Linked DNA regions of Homo sapiens. The protein of the gene in region 2 interacts with the protein of the main gene of each other region in a pairwise test. Each region holds a gene or a part of one and is shown on either strand. Other genes may lie near its edges.

What was found.
Region 1: the proteins of SLC18A1 (region 2) and MALL interact in binary tests that used the Homo sapiens proteins (3 or more experiments, as listed by UniProt).
Region 3: the proteins of SLC18A1 (region 2) and TMEM14A interact in binary tests that used the Homo sapiens proteins (3 or more experiments, as listed by UniProt).

The regions. Positions count from the first base shown.
Region 1 is NC_000002.12:110,109,204-110,112,955, forward strand, and holds part of MALL (MAL-like protein), read right to left. Parts: intron 1-3,752.
Region 2 is NC_000008.11:20,181,373-20,185,124, forward strand, and holds the start of SLC18A1 (chromaffin granule amine transporter), read right to left. Parts: upstream 1,765-3,752; 5' UTR 1,691-1,764; intron 581-1,690; exon of another isoform or gene 377-580; intron 1-376.
Region 3 is NC_000006.12:52,669,399-52,673,150, reverse strand, and holds the start of TMEM14A (transmembrane protein 14A), read right to left. Parts: upstream 2,039-3,752; 5' UTR 1,906-2,038; intron 1-1,905. UniProt on the Homo sapiens protein: Inhibits apoptosis via negative regulation of the mitochondrial outer membrane permeabilization involved in apoptotic signaling pathway.

The DNA.
Region 1 (3,752 bases), on a different chromosome or scaffold from region 2:
CCAATACTAACATTGAATGTAAATGGCCTAAATGATCCACTTAAAAGACACAAAACCACAGAATGGATAAGAACTCACCAACCCTCTGCTGCCTTCAGGAGACTCACCTAACACATAAGGACTCAAATAAACTTAAAGTAAAAGGGTGGAAAAAGGTACTTCATGCAAATGGACACCAAAAGCAAGCAGGGGTAGCTATTCTTATATCAGATAAAACAAACTTTAAAGCATTATCAGTTAAAAGAGACAAAGAGGGACAGTATATAACGGTAAAAGGCCTTGTCCGACAGAAAAATTTCACAATCCTAAACATACATGCTGCTAACACTGGAGGTCCCAAATTTATAAAACAATTACTAATAGACCTAAGAAATGAGATAGAAAGCAACACAATAATAGTGGGGGACTTCAATACTCCACTGACAGCACTAGACAGGCCATCATGACAGAAAGTCAATGAAGAAACAATGGATTTAAACTACCTTGGAACAAACGGACTTAACAGAAATGAAACAGGAGATATTACAACTGACAGAACATTTCATCCAACAACTGCAGAATACACATTCTATACAACAGCACATGGAACTTTCTCTAAGATAGACCATATGCTAGACCATAAAATGAGACTTGATAAATTTAAGAAAATTGAAATTATATCAAGCACTCTGTCAGACCACAGTAGAATAAAACTGGAAATCAACTCCAAAAGGAATCTTCAAAACCATTCAAATACATGGAAATTAAATAACCTGCTTCTGAAAGCATTGAGTCAAAAACAAAATCAAGAAGGAAATTTAAAAATTCTTCAAACTGAATGACAATAATGACACAACTTATCAAAACCTCTGGTATATAGCAAAGGCAGTGTTAAGAGGAAAGTTCATAGCCCTAAACACCTACATCAAAAAGTCTGAAAGAGCACAAACAGAAAATCTAAGGTCACACCTCAAGGAACTAGAGAATCAAGAACAAACCAAATCCTAACCCGCAGAAGAAAGGAAATAACCAAGATCAGAGCAGAACTAAATGAAATTGAAACCAAAAAAACCCATGAAAGATAAATGAAATAAAAAGCTGTTTCTTTGAAAAGATAAATAAAATTAATAGACCATTAGCAAGATTAACCAAGGAAAGAAGAGAGAAAATCCAAATAACCTCACTAAGAAACGAAACAGGAGATATTACAACTGACACCACCAAAATACAAAAGATCATTCAAGGCTGCTAGGAACACCTTTACACACATAAACTAGAAAACCTAGAGGAGAAGGATAAATTCCTGGAAAAATACAACCCTCCTAGCTTAAATCAGGAAGAATTAGATACACTAAACAGATCAATAACAAGCTGCAAGATTGAAATGGTAATTTAAAAATTACCAACAAAAAAAGTCCAAGAACGGATGGATTCGCACCAGAATTCTACCAGACATTCAAAGAAGAATTGGTACCAATCCTTTTGACATTATTCCACAAGATAGAGAATGAAGGAACCCTCCCTAATTCATTCTATGAAGCCAGCATCACCCTAATATCAAAACCAGGAAAGGACGTAACCAAAAAAGAAAACTACAGACTGATGTCTTTGATGAACATAGATGCTAAAATCCTTAACAAAATACTAGCTAACTGAATCCAACAATGTATCAAAAAGATAACCCACCATGATCAAGTGAGTTTCATACCAGAGATGCAAGGATGGTTTAACATATGCAAGTCAATAAATGTGATACACCACATAAACAGAATTTAAAACAAAAATCACATGATCATTTCAATAGATGCAGAAAAAACATTTGAAAAAATCCAGCATTGCTTTATTGTCAAAACTCTCAGCAAAATCGGCATACAAGGGACATATCTTAATGTAATAAAAGCCATCTATGACAAACCCACAGCCAACGTAATACTGAATGGCGAAAAGTTGAAAGCATTCCCTCTGAGAACTGAAACAAGACAAGGATGCCCACTCTCACCACTCCTCTTCACCATAGTACTGGAAGTCCTAGCCAGAGCAATCAGACAAGAGAAAGAAATAAAGGGCATCCAAATCAGTAAAGAGGAAGTCAAACTGTCACTGTTTGCTGACGATATGATCGTTTAACTTGAAAACTCTAAGGACTCTTCCAGAAAGCTCCTAGAACTGATAAAAGAATTCAGCAAAAGTTTCTGGATACAAGATTAATGTACACAAATCAGTAGCTTTTCTATACACCAACAGCGACCAAGCAGAGAATCAAATCAAGAGCTCAACCCCTTTCATGATAGCTGCAAAAAATAATAATAGTAATAATAAAATACTTAGGAATATACATAACAAAGGAGTTGAAAGACCTCTACAAGGAAAACTATAAAACACTGCTGAAAGAAATCACAGATGACACAAACAAACGGAAACACATCTCATGCTCATGGATGGGTAGAATCAATGTTGTGAAAATAACCATATTGCCAAAAGCAATCTACAAATTCAATGCAATCCCCATCAGAATACCACCATCATTCTTCACAGAATTAGAAAAAAAAATTCTAAAATTCATATGGAACAAAAAAGAGCCCACATAACCAAAGCAAGACTAAGCAAAAAGAACAAATCTGGAGGCATCACACTACCTGATTTCAAACTATACTATAAGGCCATAGTCACCAAAACAGCATGATACTGGTATAAAAATAGGCACATAGACCAACGGAACAGAATAGAGAACCCAGAAATAAACCCAAATACTTACAGCCAACTGATCTTTGACAAAGCAAACAAAAACATAATGTGGGGAAAGGACATCCTTTTGAATAAATGGTGCTGGGATAATTGGCTACCCACATGTAGGGGATTGAAACTGGATCCTCATCTCTCACCTTATACAAAAACCAACTCAAGATGGATTAAGGACTTAAACTTAAGACCTGAAATTACAAAAATTCTAGAAGATAACATTGGCAAAACCCTTCTAGACATTGGCTTAGGCAAGGATTTCATGACCAAGAACCCAAGAGCAAATGCAATGAAAGCAAAGATAAATAGCTGGGACCTAATTAAACTACAGAGCTTTTGCACAGCAAAAGGAACAGACAGCAGAGTAAACAGATAACCCACAGAGTGGGAGAAAATCTTCGCAATCTGTACATCTGACAAAGGTCTAATATTCAGAATCTACAAGGAAGTCAAACAAATCAGTAAGAAAAAAACAAACAATCCCATCAAAAAGTGGGCCAAGGACATGAATAGACAATTCTCAAAAGAAGATATACAAATGGCCAACAAACATGAAAAAATGCTCAACATCACTAATGATCAGGGAAATGGAAATTAAAACCACATTGTGAAACCACCTTACTCCTGCAAGAATGGCCATAATCAAAAAATCAAAAAAAAAATAGATGTTGGTGTGGATGTGGTGAACAGGAAACACTTCTACCCTTCTGGTGGGAATGTAAACTAGTACATCCACTATGGAAAACAGTGTGGAGTTTCCTTAAAGAACTAAAAGTAGAACTACCATTTGATCCAGCAATCACACTACTCAGTATCAATCCAGAGGAAAAGAAGTCATTATTCAAAAAAGATACTTGCACACACATGTTTATAGCAGCACAATTCACAATTGTGAAATTGTGTAACCAACTCAAATGCCCATCAATCAATGGGTAGATAAAGAAACTGTGATATATATATATATGTATATATATAAATATATACATATATATGATGGAATACTATGCAGCCACAAAAAGGAATGAATTAACAGC
Region 2 (3,752 bases):
CTTGATGGTTTATGTCATATCTAAGGACTACCTGTACTATCATTTACTTCATCTTTTTCCTCTAGATCCACTCTTTTAAAATATTGAGATACTGCCAGGTATGGTGGGATGTGCCTGGAGTCTCAGTTACTTGGGAGGCTGAGGTGGGAGGATATCTTGAGCCCAGGAGTTTGAGTCCAGCCTGGACTACATAGCAAGACCCCTAACTCTCAAAAAATTTTTAAAACCAACATAGATATTGATATCATGTTTCAAAAAGTTATTTTATGTGGCATGCAAAAAAAGTATGACCTTTGTTCTAGGTGCTACCCCAAAATATTTCATGTGGCACAGTGTCACTTGGGCTGCCCACTGAGAAACACTGATGTAGACCAACCTTCATCTCATAGACAAGAAATCCGAGCCTCTGAAGGTTAGGAGATTTGTTTGGGGTTGCACAGTTAGTGTCAAACTGGGATGAAATCCCACGCTTTTCAACTTGCCAGCTTATCCTCTACCATGTTCCCTTGCTCTGTGGTTCTAGAAGCACGCTCATTCTTTTGTTTGAGCTACAAACCCCTGATCAGAAAGATGCCTTCATCTGTGAAAATAAAATATTGACTTTCATGATTAGTTCTCTATTCAGGATTTCATATCATTAGTCAGCATTAAGTCACAGTACCTTGTCAAACTTCAAGTAATAAGAGTTTCTGGGGAGAATTTCATTTTCTTTGACGTGGCTTCTGTTGTGGTATCAACAATATCACTCATTTAAATTTTAAAATAGATTACCATCATGAAATCTATCAGGCCCTAAAAATTGTATACTCTTTGACTTAGTAACTCTACTACAAGGAACCCATCCTACAAAAGAAAAAAGGTCAGAGATGCAGCCAAAGACTTATACTCAAAATGATCAATTGCAGAATTATTTTTCTTAGTGAAAAAAGTCAAACATGTTAATGGTGGATTATTAAGCGGCTCTTAAAAATTATATTTTCAAATAATTTTAATGATACAGAAAATACTATTACTATAACGTTAAGTAAAAAAGGGAAATTAAACTGTGTTTTCAACTTTATCTCAATTGTCTAAATATAAATATATGGGCACATTTTTGAGAGAGTAGAGAGATACTCAAATGCCAGTTATTTATAATCAATGACTTCAGTTATCTTCTGTGTATTTCTAAATATTCAATAATGAGCTACTTTTGTAATTAAAGAAGTAAATAATTTTAAATGATTATCACTGAAATTCAATAGTCAGCCTCAGGTGTTGGGAGTACCCCAAACACTGAGGTACTCTGTTCTAAGCCCAGGGCTGGAAGAACCCTCTCACTACTACATATTAACGTGACCAAGGTCCTAAGTGAACCAAATTCTCAGTTAAGTTTTAACCAGTAAATGCATGCAATTACTTAAGATCCTTCATTTCTCTATATAAAGGAGGTATTTCTGAATACAAATTGACTTAGGATATGTATGGATAAGAATAAAAGACAAGCCATGGAAAATTAAAAAACATAGTGAGTGAAGTAAGTACTACAAAGAGAGAGAAACACACACACCCAAATCCCAAAACAAAAACAAACAAAACCAGGAATTTGCCAACAAATCAATAGTAAACTTTACTTAACAGTCAAAATCCTCTGACAGAGACACAAATCACAAGGAAAGATTAAATTTGTCCGGAGAGAGAAAAATCTTACCTTGGAGCCCATGTTGGTGTGAGGCACTCAGTGAGGTATTGGCAGCTGTTAGCAAGACAGCAGGGACACTGTTCTCTGAACGTGGATGTGCTGTTGGATTTATTGCCTCCTGTTATCTGAGGATTCTGTGTATGTGTGTGTGTGTGTGCCTTTGTCCACAAAGATTTAATTGCAACCTCCAACAGGGTTCATTCAGACCCTTAGCTCCCTGCGTCAAAGGCAGGAAGGCAGGGCTGGAGAGGATAAAGAGAGGGCAGATATTAGCCTAAGCAAAGAGGCACTGGACTGTACTGTTTTGCATCTGTGCTTATCTATCATCGAACTCTTTAACTCTTGCCTGGGTCTGAATACAAATTGGAAGCCAAGATGGAACCAGTGTGCAGTTCCTGTTCCTTGCTACTTAGTCAAAGTGGCTCCATGTACCCCAATTAGCTTCCTGGAAAGAAACAATGTATGTTGTTCTCAAGCCATAAAAACCCAACATCTGTGGCCTCTGTAAAGGCTTAGATTATGCACTGTGTCTTCACATCTCAATACTGGCTCAGTGCCTGATACATGGTAGCATCCAATAAATATTTCTTGCATGGATGACTGGATGGTTAACTACAGGAGAAAGTGCAGTTCCTTGTGGGATCTTGAGAGGCTCTAATGATCTATATTATTCTGACATTAAACCATTGGTGGCTCAAAGAACATAAGCAATTTATGAAAAAGCAAATACACTTTACGAGCAAGAGCAGTGCAGAGATTTCCTATTTGTGGAACTGGTGGGCCCCTCCTAATTGTGGGAATTAACTAGGGAACTTTCGATTTAACGCTAAAAAAAAAGAAAATAGTTTTTTAATTTTATTTTTTTTATTTTTGAGACAGAGTCTCGCTATGTCACCCAGGCTAGAGTGCAGTGGCATGATCTTGGCTCACTGCAACCTCCACCACCTGGGTTCAAGCAATCCTCTAATCTCAACCTCCTGAGTAGCTGGGATTACAGGTGCATGCCACCATGCTCAGCTAATTTTTGTATTTTCAGTAGAGACAGGGTTTCACCATGTTGGCCAGGCTGGTCTCGAAGTCCTGACCTCAAGTGATCCTCCTGCCTTGGCCTCTCAAAGTGCTGGAATTACAGACGCGAGCCACAGCGCGCGGCCTAGATGGAAACAGTTTTAAAATGTAAACCTAGAGCGAGAAATAGGGATAGGAAACAAAGACATCAGCAGAATGTATTCATCGCTATAGTTTGCTGCTGTAACAAATTACTACAATCTGGTGGCTTAAAACAACACGTATTTAGTATCTTGCAGTTCTGGAGGTCAGAAGTCCAAAATACATCACACCGGGTTAAAATGAATGTGTCGGCAGGGCTGCATTCCTTCTGGAGATTCTGGGGGATGGTTGTTTCCTTGCCTTTTCCAGCTTCCAGAGATCTCCTGCATTTCTTGGCTCCTAGCCACTTTTACCCTCAAAGCTAGCAGCAATGCATATTCAACTCTCCCTCTGACTCTGAGCCTTCTGCCTCCCTCTTTCACTTGTAAGGACTCACGGGATGACCCTGGGCCCACCCAGATATTCCAAGATCACCTCCCCATCTCAAGATCCTTAATCATATCTGCAAAGTCCCTTTTACCATAGGGGACTACCAAGGCAACATACTCACAGGTTCCAGGATTAGGAGGTGGACATCTCTGGGGTGCCACTGTCCACTCCCTACAGGGAGCATGGCACACTGCCCCCCACTTACATGCAGGGCCTGTGGCCTGAGCCTCTAGGGAATGAGGGGGTTAGGGCCAAAAGATGGAGGAACTGTATTAATAAAGATATTTGCAAGACTCTGGGCATAAGGCAGTATCCTTTTTGGAGTCCAGGTGACAATTCTGCCACCATGCCCTCCACCCTAAGTACAGTGTTAGAACTCTGAGGGTTGACAGCCTCCGGCATAGTGTACCTGTGTCCAATAGAGGGCGCTAGAGGGAGAGGGCTTGGGTAGAGCAGCCTCACAGGAATGTTCCGAGACAGCACCTAACTGGGGATGCCCCCCAAAAATTGGGAAATCATGATTTTGGGAAAT
Region 3 (3,752 bases), on a different chromosome or scaffold from region 2:
TACCCTACAGGGGAGCATGAATAAGTCAAGTGAAGAGGGTGCAGGGAAGGGTGTTCCTGGCAGAAGGGAGCGCATGTGCAAGGCCCTAATGGCACAAGAAAGCATGTTCTCAAAATGAAAAGTGCAAGGGGCTTGTGAAAAGAGAGGGTGCTGGTGAGAAAGACAGGGCTGTACACCCACATAAGCCCCGTAAAGGGAGTCTGGTTCCGTCCTAAGGGCAATGAAGGATCACTGAAGGGAGCCTCACAATCAGATTTAAATTCCAGCAAGCACTTCCCAGTTGCAGTAGTGAAGATGGGTTGTGAAGTGAGGCAGGGAGATAAATCGGGAAGCTGTTGCAGTAAAGTAAGCAAGAGCTTAGTTGATAACGGTAGGCTTATCTAGAGAAATGGCAATGAGAATGGAGAGAAGGTGGACAGATTTCAGAAGTTCAGGAGGTAGAATCAGAATTGAATTTGAGGCGGGAAGGGAAAGTCAGGGGTGAATCAGAGATGACTCACCCCTAGGTATCTGGCTTAGACCATTAGGAGAAGTAGGGAGTCGGGGAGCCTCATGCTATTCCCTGAGACAGAGAACATGGGAACAGCAGCAGGTGTGTGGCGGTGGGAAGAGGGAGGTGGCTAGGAATGATGGGACCTGTTTAGAATGTATTCAGTCTGAGACGCCCAACACACAGTCCGGAAAACACCCTTACATACAGATCTGAAGCTTATGAGAGTTCTTTCATTATCAGGTGTAACTTCTAGACCTAATTTTCTCCTAAAGCTAAGTAGCTGTTGTGAAAGATTAATTCCACTCCATCCTGAGCCCCCCAGCTCTTCCTGCGATCTTCTCTTGAGGACCCATACCCTTTTACTTGGTTGGGATTCTCTCAACTCTCAGCCAGCCAAGCTCCTTGAGGGCAAACCAAGGTTCAGTTTATCTTTGTCCTCCTCACAGCACCAAGAACCCTGCCATGCACAAGGCAGGTACTTAAAATACTTGTTAAATGAATAAATGAGTGAGTGAACCAAAGGAACAGCTTCTGCCTGAAGACATTCTGTAACTGACCTACCCAATACAGCTTTATTGCCAGGAAACAGGTAGCCCCTTAATCTCCTTAGCGAACTGACTGTTGTTCTAAAGAGGCAAAATAAATCTACTCCCAATGCTTGCAAGAAGATTCTGTTCTCACAGAGAATATTCAGACAAAAGAATCACCTATTCCATGACGGAGCCATGTGGCCAGGCCAGAAGCACACATTAAAGCCAGAGGCTGTGTTAACATGGAAGGGATAAGGTGGGAGAGGATGTGCACAGCACATCACACGCTCTCATCACAAATGTGATGCTCAAGCCTTGGAAGGACTAAAACGCATCTTGGATGCAATGCAGCAAAACGATTTACCATACCAGGTACAAAACAAGGTGACAGGGGACAGCCTCGCTGCCCGCCCCAAATCCTCCAAAATTCGGAGAATTAAGAGATTTTCGGTGAACTGTTACATAAAAAGCATTTTCACATGCTAAAGATATAACAATTACCTACCCTTGAGCTCTTGGAGGGCACAAAAGGCACATTTTCGAGTGGGGTCTGGGTGGTGCTGAGAAGGTTAAAATCCTGCCAAGCATTTTGCAATGGTCCATGAGCCCACCCCACCACCCCAGATCCAGGAAGGTAGGAGGCAGGATAGGTGGGATATTTAGGGATACCAGAAGGCAGAAACTCGGGAGGAGGAGAAAAATGATACCGCGGAGGTAAGACCGATGCCCTGCAAAATCCCCTCAAGGTCCTCTGCATCATCGTTTGCTGTACAGGTTTGGCGCGGGGGAGGGGATGCCCGCTAAGCAACGCCCCTTATATTTCTGCAGTTTTGTAAGAAAATTCAGAGCAGGAAGGTCTCCATTGCGGGATGCACAGCTCACCTGCAGCCCCGAGCCTTCACTGCAGCTGAAAAGACAGAAGTCTGGGGCCAGCTGCCGCCAAGCGCGGTACCTGGAGTCCGGAAGCAGTCTCCGCACCAGCGCTGTCCCACTCGGCGCCCAGCCGTCTCGCGCTGAGCAAAGGCCGCTCCCTCCTGGAAACGCCCTCCCTGCCGCGCGCATGCGCTGTGTCCCTTCTCGCCTTGCAGGACTCCACCCGGTCCATGCCCTCCGGCTGAATCCGGGCGGCCTGTAGGCCAGGCAGCCAGGAGGCCCTGTGCTGCAACATCCCGGCGGCAGCCGGACCCGTTGCTCCGTCTATCCTGCCTTCGGCCCTGTCCTGGAGCCAGGGCTGGGGTTTGCTGCCTCCCGCCTGACGGAGCAGGACTGGCAGGAAGCGTGTTTGCAAGAAGCCAAAATTACAGAAGGCGAAGATTTTTAAATTAACTCCATTCATCTTTCAAGGGACATTTCCAGAACCTCCAAAAGGCAACCCGAGGTCTTCTACACACCCTCCAGCAGACTGTCCCCACTGTCAGTGGAGGGAGCTAAGGTTCAGTGAGGTCAAGTGACTTAGTTGTCCCAGGTCAAAATCCAAGTTTGCCTGGTGTCAAAGCCCAAGCACCCTTCATTACACTATGGGATCATCTAGATGTGGTTGGGAGACGAGGATCCTAGTTTTAAACTTCAGGCCCAGGATTTGCTGGGTTTAGATATCTACTGGGAAAGGTATAGAATTCCAGAGTTGGAAAGCACTTAAAACCTTGCCTAATGCAAGGCAATCCGCTCAATCCCAGGAACGAAACTTAAACTGACCTTATTTTTTTTTTAAATACAGGATCTCAGTCGGTCGCCCAGGCTGGAGTGCAGTGGCACCATCCCGTCTCACTGCAACCTCTGCCTCCTGCCTCCTGGGTTCAAGCGATTCTCCAGCCTCAACCTCCCAAGTAGCTGGGATTACAGGTGTGTGCCACCTCACCCGACTATTTTTTTTTTGTAGAGACGGGGTTTCACTGTGTTGCCCAGGATGGTCTTGAATTCCTGAGCTCAAAGCAATCCTCCCGCCTCTGCCTCCCAAAGTGCTGGGATTACAGTTTAAATTGACTTTAAATTATGCCTCCCTGTAGCAACTTATCATCTCAATCTTCTGCCTTCTTGATTGAATACAGAACTCCGACCCTCTTCCTTATGTAACAGCCCTTTGGAGATTTGAAGAAGGTTGTCATAGTGAAGTAGCTCTAGAGGTTCTGTGTCACTGAGAATTACAGCGGAATTCCTCAGAATAAAAAAGGAAACTCAAAAATTAAATCTTGTGAAGTTTGTTTGCTACATCTATTCTTTGTGCATAAAAGTGCTTCAGGGAAGTAATATAACTACATCTAACTTATGAAAGTCTAAGTTGGTCCTGGGGAATTAATAAAATTCCTGAAGATTCACAGAAGAGTTGATGGCAAGGCACTGGAATGTGGCGTGGAGAAAGTGATAGCCTGAAATTTGGTTCTGAGTTCTCTCAGCCCTCCTTTCCATCCCCTTCTATGCCCATCCTTACCCCAGCCTCCTCACCTTCTCTCCTCACACTCTCAGAACACTTACCCTATTTGGAATAAAACTAAAATCCTCTTGGAATACTTCATTATCTTCATCTGATGTGACCTGGGTAAATAACTCCCCTCTGGACCTCAGTGCCTGGATTTAAGATATGGACAAGACTAGATGCTCTGAGATCCCTTACACCCTATCACCAACATACTCGAAGCTGGAAACAGCCTCATGATATTCCTACTCAAGGCGTATCACCTAAAACTAAAGAAAAACTCTTTGAATATTATGGGAATTCCATACCCTTGAAT